Linked DNA regions of Homo sapiens: region 1 is linked to region 2. The links come from fine-mapping of genetic effects on gene expression. Tissue or cell type: whole blood. Region 2 holds a variant in brackets; the other region holds the start of a gene. All regions are shown on one strand. Distances are between the middles of the regions.

The links. PIP is the estimated chance that this variant, and not a neighbour inherited with it, causes the effect.
Region 1: it holds the start of LAMC1, and the variant in region 2 is fine-mapped to the expression of LAMC1 in whole blood (INTERVAL, PIP 0.99).

What each region holds. Positions count from the first base shown.
Region 1 is chr1:183,021,648-183,025,810 of GRCh38, forward strand. LAMC1 (laminin subunit gamma 1) reads left to right here and starts at 1,773. Exons shown (of 28, transcript NM_002293.4): 1 at 1,773-2,487. The coding sequence starts at 2,070. RefSeq lists enhancers at 470-1,025, 1,026-1,580, 2,136-2,689 and silencers at 1,092-1,481, 1,512-1,901, 1,952-2,021, 2,042-2,181.
Region 2 is chr1:183,051,431-183,055,430 of GRCh38, forward strand. All of the region lies in intron 1 of LAMC1 (laminin subunit gamma 1), which reads left to right. Among named protein-coding and RNA genes, the nearest start is that of LAMC1, 30 kb to the left of the region's middle. The variant G/GT (reference allele first, on the strand shown) is at 1,989.

The DNA.
Region 1 (4,163 bases), 30 kb before region 2:
GAGACCCACGCTTTGGCCACTATATAACAAAGTACTAAAAATGTATAATAATGCAAATTCACTAATATGTTTATTAAAATATAAACAAGTTTATTACAAATCTGTAGCTTTATTCACAACTAACATCCTTATTTTTGTCCTATATGCCCACGTTTGTCCTCAAGTACAACGAAGGACTGAGAGAGCATATAATCCCCTCTAGGTGTAAATGAACGTATTTATTTCGCTTCAACTCATGTATGAAAGGATTAAAAAATTATTAGTCCCCACAACTTAATTCTCCCAAAGAGAAGGTGCCAAGAATGAGGCACCTTTAGCCATGCATAATCTCCACCCATCTCATCAAATAAACGGAACAGTGATGAACATAACTTGCTAAGTAAGCTCAGCCGTGTAACAAGACCCTAGATTCCCCTCCCTTCTTCATCCTACCAGAACATTATCCTTAAGGTTTTCCTAATCAGCAGTCTGCGTCTAACTAACCCTAACTATCCAGAGTCACCTAACATATACTTATTTCCTTGTTTCAGATTCCCATTACGCCTATCTTAATGGGACAACTGGGTCCGAAATTATGCATGTGTTTTTTTGTTTTGTTTTTGCGGTGTACTTATTATCCGCACTTTATCATTAAATTCCTGAAAAGCTAGAACAAAACAAATCCGTGTCATTCACTATGTGCATCCTCTCTGCTTGGGGACGCCAAGGGTTTCAAGCTGCTGCCTCCCTGCCCTGGTCTCTGCTTGCCGTATCCAGCACTGGGTAAGCGCCCAGGTTCTGCTCCGGGACTAAAACTCATGATCTTCTGGCTCAGGTTCTGTGAACTGAGTCATTCTGGCACTGAGAATATTCCGTGACTCAGCAGGCCCGAAAAGGAGGATGTCAGAATCCACATAATTTCGAGTCTTTTAAAGGCAAGCCGAGGAACACAAACAACACAGTGGAAGAATTTCGCAGTGGGTCGTGCGTACCCAAGGGAAAAATTCATTCCATTCCCAGCCTTTTCACTTCCTTCCTTGCCCCGGTAAAACGACTGGTTACACTTTAAATCAGCGGCAGGAAATCGCTTCACGAAACTCATCTGGCTGCTGCGACCAGGCCCTTCTGATTCTCCAGGGACCGTGTCGGCCCCATGAACGCCCCGGGACCTCTGTTCGGGAGGGGCTGGAGCGGGGCCCCGGGCAGCAGCGGGCGCTCCCGGTTCGGACCCACACCTGGCCGGGCGGGGACCCTCTTGCCGCAGCCCAAATTGGCGCGAGGCCCCAGGGACGACCCCGAGCGACCTCCTGACCCGGCATCGCCCCTCTAAGGCGCCCTCCCCCGACTCCTCCCGCAATCCGGAGTCTCCCAGGCCGCGGAGCCCAAGGACCCCAGCGACTCCCGCGCGGGGAGCGGGTCTGCGAGGCCGCCCTTCCCTCCCGGCATGCACCACCCAGCCGCCCTCCCCTCCCCTCCTCTCCTCTCCCCTCCCCTCCTCTCCCCTCCTCTCCCCTCCCCTCCCCCAACCCCCTCCCCCGGCTCCCCGCCCACCTCGCGCGCCCCTCCCCCCGGGTCGCGCGCCGCGGGCCCGAGCGCGAGACGCCGCTGCTCCCGCCCCCGCCGCCTCCTGGAGTCGCCGGGGCGGACGCGCAGTCCATGGGGCGCGGTGGGCCGGGGAGTTGCCCCAGGGGCCGCGGGAGTTGCTGAGAGGAGACAGGGTTGGGCTTTCTCCTCGCCCAGACCCCACCCCACCCTGCCGACCCCACCCCCTGCTCCTTCCTCCCCGGGGGCGCGCACTCGGGCACGCGCTCGGAAGTCGGGGGTCGGCGCGGAGTGCAGGCTGCTCCCGGGGTAGGTGAGGGAAGCGCGGAGGCGGCGCGCGGGGGCAGTGGTCGGCGAGCAGCGCGGTCCTCGCTAGGGGCGCCCACCCGTCAGTCTCTCCGGCGCGAGCCGCCGCCACCGCCCGCGCCGGAGTCAGGCCCCTGGGCCCCCAGGCTCAAGCAGCGAAGCGGCCTCCGGGGGACGCCGCTAGGCGAGAGGAACGCGCCGGTGCCCTTGCCTTCGCCGTGACCCAGCGTGCGGGCGGCGGGATGAGAGGGAGCCATCGGGCCGCGCCGGCCCTGCGGCCCCGGGGGCGGCTCTGGCCCGTGCTGGCCGTGCTGGCGGCGGCCGCCGCGGCGGGCTGTGCCCAGGCAGCCATGGACGAGTGCACGGACGAGGGCGGGCGGCCGCAGCGCTGCATGCCCGAGTTCGTCAACGCCGCCTTCAACGTGACTGTGGTGGCCACCAACACGTGTGGGACTCCGCCCGAGGAATACTGTGTGCAGACCGGGGTGACCGGGGTCACCAAGTCCTGTCACCTGTGCGACGCCGGGCAGCCCCACCTGCAGCACGGGGCAGCCTTCCTGACCGACTACAACAACCAGGCCGACACCACCTGGTGGCAAAGCCAGACCATGCTGGCCGGGGTGCAGTACCCCAGCTCCATCAACCTCACGCTGCACCTGGGTAAGCGGTGACAGCCCCGTCCCCTGCTACTGCTCGCCAGCAGCCCAGCTCCCGGACCGGCTCCGTCCCAGTGGCCGGCCTCACGGGCGCAGACGGCCGCGTGTTTGCTCTCTGTTCCCCGGCATGGGCCACACAGAAACTCCTTTCTCCAACTTCTTAAATAGATACTGCTTTTAACATCCCGTGAGGGCCAGGATGTTCCGCACGAGTCTCTCTGCTTTCCTGTTCTTTCTGACTTAACGGGATTCTGGCTCTCTGATTATTCTGCATTTCGGCTGTTAGGATTGTGATTTCCCCCTTTTTTTTCTGAAGCGTTAATCAGAAACTCCCATCCCCACTTTTCTCTTTGCTAGCAAGGTCATCACAGCGCATTCTTGGATCGGAAACAAGAAGGTCCGCCTTAAACACTTTCGCCTTTAAAATGTTTAGATGTCCTTCCAGGGCTGAGGGTGATTGCTCTGTTGAGTTAAGGGGGAATTTGAGGGGAGCAAATGCCTTCGCTGCCTATATTGCCTATGTGTAATTAAAACATAAATTCACTTTTGAAGTTATTGTTCTTTATAGCTGCTCAGCCTTAATTAAGAACCACAAAGCGATTTGACTGCTAATCCTGGTGCAGAATGAACAAAAGGAAGTGCACTCACTGTAATTGCTGGGCATAGCCTTGTCCCTGGGTAAAAAGGCTCTCCTTTACTGTCTTCCCTTTTGCTTTCATTCAAAGCAACTGTAGAAACACGTGTAAGTGATGTTTCAGAAATCAGGAAAGGGATGTGTAGAAAACTTCATGGCAGGGCAGTGGATTGAGGATGGACATATGTATCTGGAAGCACCAAAAATAATGTTCGGTCTAGCTAAGGTTTTCTTCATCATTGAGATACGTAAATAGGCAGAAAGTTTCATTATTGTGTTTAACAGAGGAATCTATGTGTGAGAAACACGTTTGACTTAACACTTCACTCCCCATTGCCTTGGAAGGCTTGATTATTACCAGTAGCTGGTACTAATGAACTTCCAGAGAGAACAGACTGCCTCAAGCCATTCTTCTGTCAAGGGAGGGTAATTTTGTAAGGCTAATATCACTTAGGGGTGTTGGAAAGGAACATGTTGTAGGCAAATGGTTCTTTTGATCATGATTTTGCTGCTCTCCGGTACACTAAACTTTATGTAAGTATCAGGATTCCAGAGAAAGAATTGGACTTAACAAAAAGTACTTTGAAAAGTGGGATTAAATTATTGTGTGTGGAATAAGTGTTAGAAAAGCAGAATTATTTAACATCTTATTTGCAGTTGAGTCATTAAACAAATGAAACATTTTGAAAATAATTTCATAAAATGATACTATGAGGTATCTGTTTTTCAGGGATTGAAGAAGTAAAGTGCACTGAGTTCAGTTTTTTAAAGGTGCCTTTCTGAAGACATAGCTAGTGACCGAGGATTTCCTAAGATCTGTGAGATTGCTCTTTATTTTCTCCTGTTATATTTTTTAAGTTGGCCAAAATTATTTTTGAAATGTGTATCTAAGTATTTCTGTTTAACTTTTGACTTGTTAAAGTTTCTGTGTTCAAGTTTGAATACTCTTGAAGTCTTATTTTTTTCATTTTCAGATTTTAAAATTTTCAAAGAAAAGGCGTTGCCTGATGTCTGAAATCTCAGATGCCTGAAATTCAATTGACAAT
Region 2 (4,000 bases):
GCTGAGTACCACTGTGTGACTTCAGTCAATACCGTGTGGAGTACACGAATCATCCAGCTGAACCCTTCCCAAATTCTTGACTCTCAAAATCATGAGATAAAAATGGTGGTTGTTTTAAGCCACTGAGCTTTGGAGTAGCTTGTTGTGCAGCAGTAGATAACTGGAACACTTACTGAGTCTCTGGGATTATTGAGTTGGAGTGCCTATGCTGCTCTTCCCAAGGGGAATCAGCCTTTTTTCCTTCCTGGAATGGTTGCTTAGAAGAACCTGTAGACACCCAGAGGAAGTTACACTTTTCTTTGGCTTTAACTAGAGAGCCATGGGAGAGGAGCCAGAAATATCCCGAGGCTATGCATTTCTGAGTTCTAACTGAAGCCTGGCAGAAATTTCAAACCAAGTTATCACAGGGATCTTGTGTCTGAGAGAGCAGACTGTCTTCTGGTCAGTATCCTTGTGTGTCTAATGAAGGGAAGACAGGTGCAGGGATCCATCTTCAGGGTGTTCTCCAGGAGAGCCATAAATGTAACAGTAGGAAAACAAGCTATGTTCATATTCTTGGTTTCTGCTTATTTCTCTGATAAAAAATCATTCCTTTCATTGGTTTCTGCTTGTTCATCTGATAAAAAAATCATTCCTTTTGTTACCTGTCAAAACATACAGCCCCCTGATTGCAACTCAAGGTGCTCTGCACTGCGTATCCAAGAGTAACCATCACTTCTGCTTCCCCTGTTTTGTTGCATGTGTTGGCTAGCTACCTATCCATTTTTGTGTTCTCATCCCTTTTTCTTTCTGTTCTGTCTTTCACAATTACCCTACTTTCCATTCCTCTTCCCATCTCTCCCAAACTCTGCTAATTGATATTCTGGTCATACTAAAAGGCTAATCTATCTATCTTTCTTTTGTTCTTTCTTTTCTTTTTTTTTTGACACAGTCTCACTCTGTCGCCCAGGCTGAGTGCAGTGGCATGATCTCGGCTCAATGCAACCTCTGCCTCCTGGGTTCAAGCAGTTCTCATGCTTCAGCCTCCCGAGTAGCTGGGATTACAGGCATGCGCCACCACGCCCAGCTAATTTTTATATTTTTAGTAGAGGTGGAGTTTCACCATGTTGGCCAGGCTGGTCTCTTAACTCCTGACCTCAGGTAATCCGCCTGCCTCAGCCTTCCAAAGTGCTGGGATTACAGGTGTGAGCCACCATGCTCAGCCACTTAACTTTCTTTTTCTTACATTTTCATCTCTTTATCCCTCCTGCTCATGTCCCTTCCTCTCCCTCACCTTAAGCACAGCCTGCTTGGGTTTTTGGGTGTGTGTCTTATAATAATATATCACTTAGTAAATTATAAGCAACTTGAGAATAAAGAAGGTTCTATTCAGTCATAATGCTTAAGAGTGTTCATCAAATTATTTGGGTTAAATAAAACCCTTTATTTCCATTTTCTTCTCCCTTACTGAAAAAAGCTACACTAATGTTCTCTAGGATTGATGTGCATAGAGAATGGGAACTTAAAGAATTATTGTCTTAAGGGTATGTGGGTTTCCTTATCCAAACACAGGTAAATGAGGGAAGAGATGTAAACAACGATTACTCTGTTCTTCCTAGTGTTGGTTGGAGTTCTCTGTACTTCTGTTTCCTGTCCAAGGAGGGAGAGATCCGTCATTCTGAATTTATTTGTTTGAATTTATGGGACAAAAATGCTATAAATCAAATCCCTTGTTAGGGTTTTCCAGTGCGTTAAATGTAAAAACTTGAAAAGTTTGCTGAAAAACTTGGTTTCCGTGTCCATATTTAATAGATCATATTTTCCCCAGATATTTTCGACTATAGCCATTATAAGAAATATATTTTGTATTGCCACCTAGTCAGTACATATAGCTGAAACAGGTTTATCAAAGCAAGTCTAACCATTATTTCCTGTATCATACTCTGATATTTTCTATTCACTTCTAATTCTTTTTTAAAAATGCTCATCTGGATCTGTTTTTTGTGTGT[G/GT]TTTTTTTTTTTCATTTCAAACTAATGGGTTGTTTGAAAAGTATTGAGTTACATAATAGTTGCTTGAATGGTAAGGGTCTGATTCTGAGTCTCATCAGCTCTCCTGAGAGAATTGGTGTTCTTAGACTGCATTGGTGGCTGAATCTGATCAGAACATTTACATTTTGTGAAGATCTTGTATAATCCAAAACATTCATAATGAAAGATAGTTTTGGTTTTTTTTTTTTGACAGAGTCTTGCTCTGTTGCCCAGGCTGGAGTGCAGTGGCACGAACTTGGCTCACTGCAACCTCCATCTCCTGGGCTCAAACGATTCTTGTGCTTCAGCCTCTTGAGTAGCTGGGATTACAGGCGCACACCATCATGCCTGGCTAATTTTTTGTATTTTAGTAGAGACGGGGTTTTACCATGTTGCCCAGGCTGGTCTCAAACTCCTGAGCTCAGGCAATCCACCCGCCTCGGCCTCCCAAAGTGCTAGGATTACAGGTGTGAGCCACTGCTCCTGGCCAAAGATAGGTTTTATTATTGGGAAAAAGTGTTAAGATAGGTGAAATCTATAGTCTTTGCTCAAATGTTGCTTTTTATTTTCTAAGTGTCATCACTAGTGTTTTGCAGAATGTTCTCTCAACAAGCAGTACTGCCTATTGAGGTGGGTTGATTTGTTGTTCTGAATAGTTCTGCCACCTCCAATTTCATTTTAAAGTCATTGATTTTCAGGTGCATTTGTAAGGCTAGCATCATTAATATCAGCACTTAATAGCTAACATTTATTAACTACTATGTGCTATGCATGGTGTTGAGTGCTTTTCTTAGATTAATTTAATCCTCAGCACAACCCAGTGCGGATGGAGCACTCTCCCAGTTTACGGAGGAGGAAGCCGAGGCATAGAAGCCACACAGCTATTTGTGAGGATTCAGGCTGTGCACTCTAGGGTCTGGTTATAGAGGCTGTTCTCTGAATCACACTGTGCTCTGCCTCAGAATAAAATGCCTTCTATACAACGTGGCTGTAACCTTAACTTCTGGGGACTGGTATCACTTGTTACTCTTTCCTAAATTTTGGGGTCATTTCCAGTATTCTAATGGCAACGATACTATAACACAGCCCCTAGGATACTGATATTCTGTTATATTGAGAAGAAAGCAGGGGTAAATAAGGTCTTTTGACATTTTAATGAACTGATTGCTTAGGGTTTCAAGATTAACCCACCCCGTATATTGCAAGGTCGCTTCTCAGCCTGAAGTTTACTTAGGTGAAAAACAGGACATTTTATTTCTTTAGTGTCTACTTTATGCTAGACACAGTTCCTGGCTTGGAGACTACAAAACTCAATGTGGAGCATTTGGCTTTGATTAAGAGGGAAGCCATTGATTATTCATAGACTTCTAGGACCACAGCCACCTTAGAGCCTTAGGGGCTTTTCCCACTTGACCCCTTCTTCTACTGAAGAGGAGCAGGCCAGGAAGCCAGTGGTTCCTCATGGTATCAGGATTCCTTGTTCTTGGTGCTCTATTGTGTTGCCTTTTCTTCTGCCATCTTATTCCTTTGATTAGTGAGAACTTTGTGCATCTTTTTTTTTTTTTTTTTGAGATGGAGTTTCGCTCTTGTTGCCTAGGCTGGAGTGCAGTGACGCAATCTCGGCTCACTGCAACCTCCACCTCCCGGGTTCAAGCGATTCTCCTGCCTCAGCCTCCCGAGTAGCTGGGATTACAGGTGCCTGCCACCGCGCCTGGCTAATTTTTTGTATTTTTAGCAGAGACGGGGTTTCACCATGTTGGCCAGGCTGGTCTCGAACTCCTGACCTCAGGTGATCCACCTGCCTTGGCCTCCGGAAGTGCTGGGATTACAGGTATGAGCCACCGCGCCCGGACACATCCTTTCTTTATCATTTCTCTTCCTAGTGTGTGAAATGTGGCGATAGATGTTTATAACCACTTACTAGGGATTGACTCAGCTATGAACTTGATACCTGCTTAGGGTGACTAATTTAGCCTCTTGAAGCCTCAGTTTTC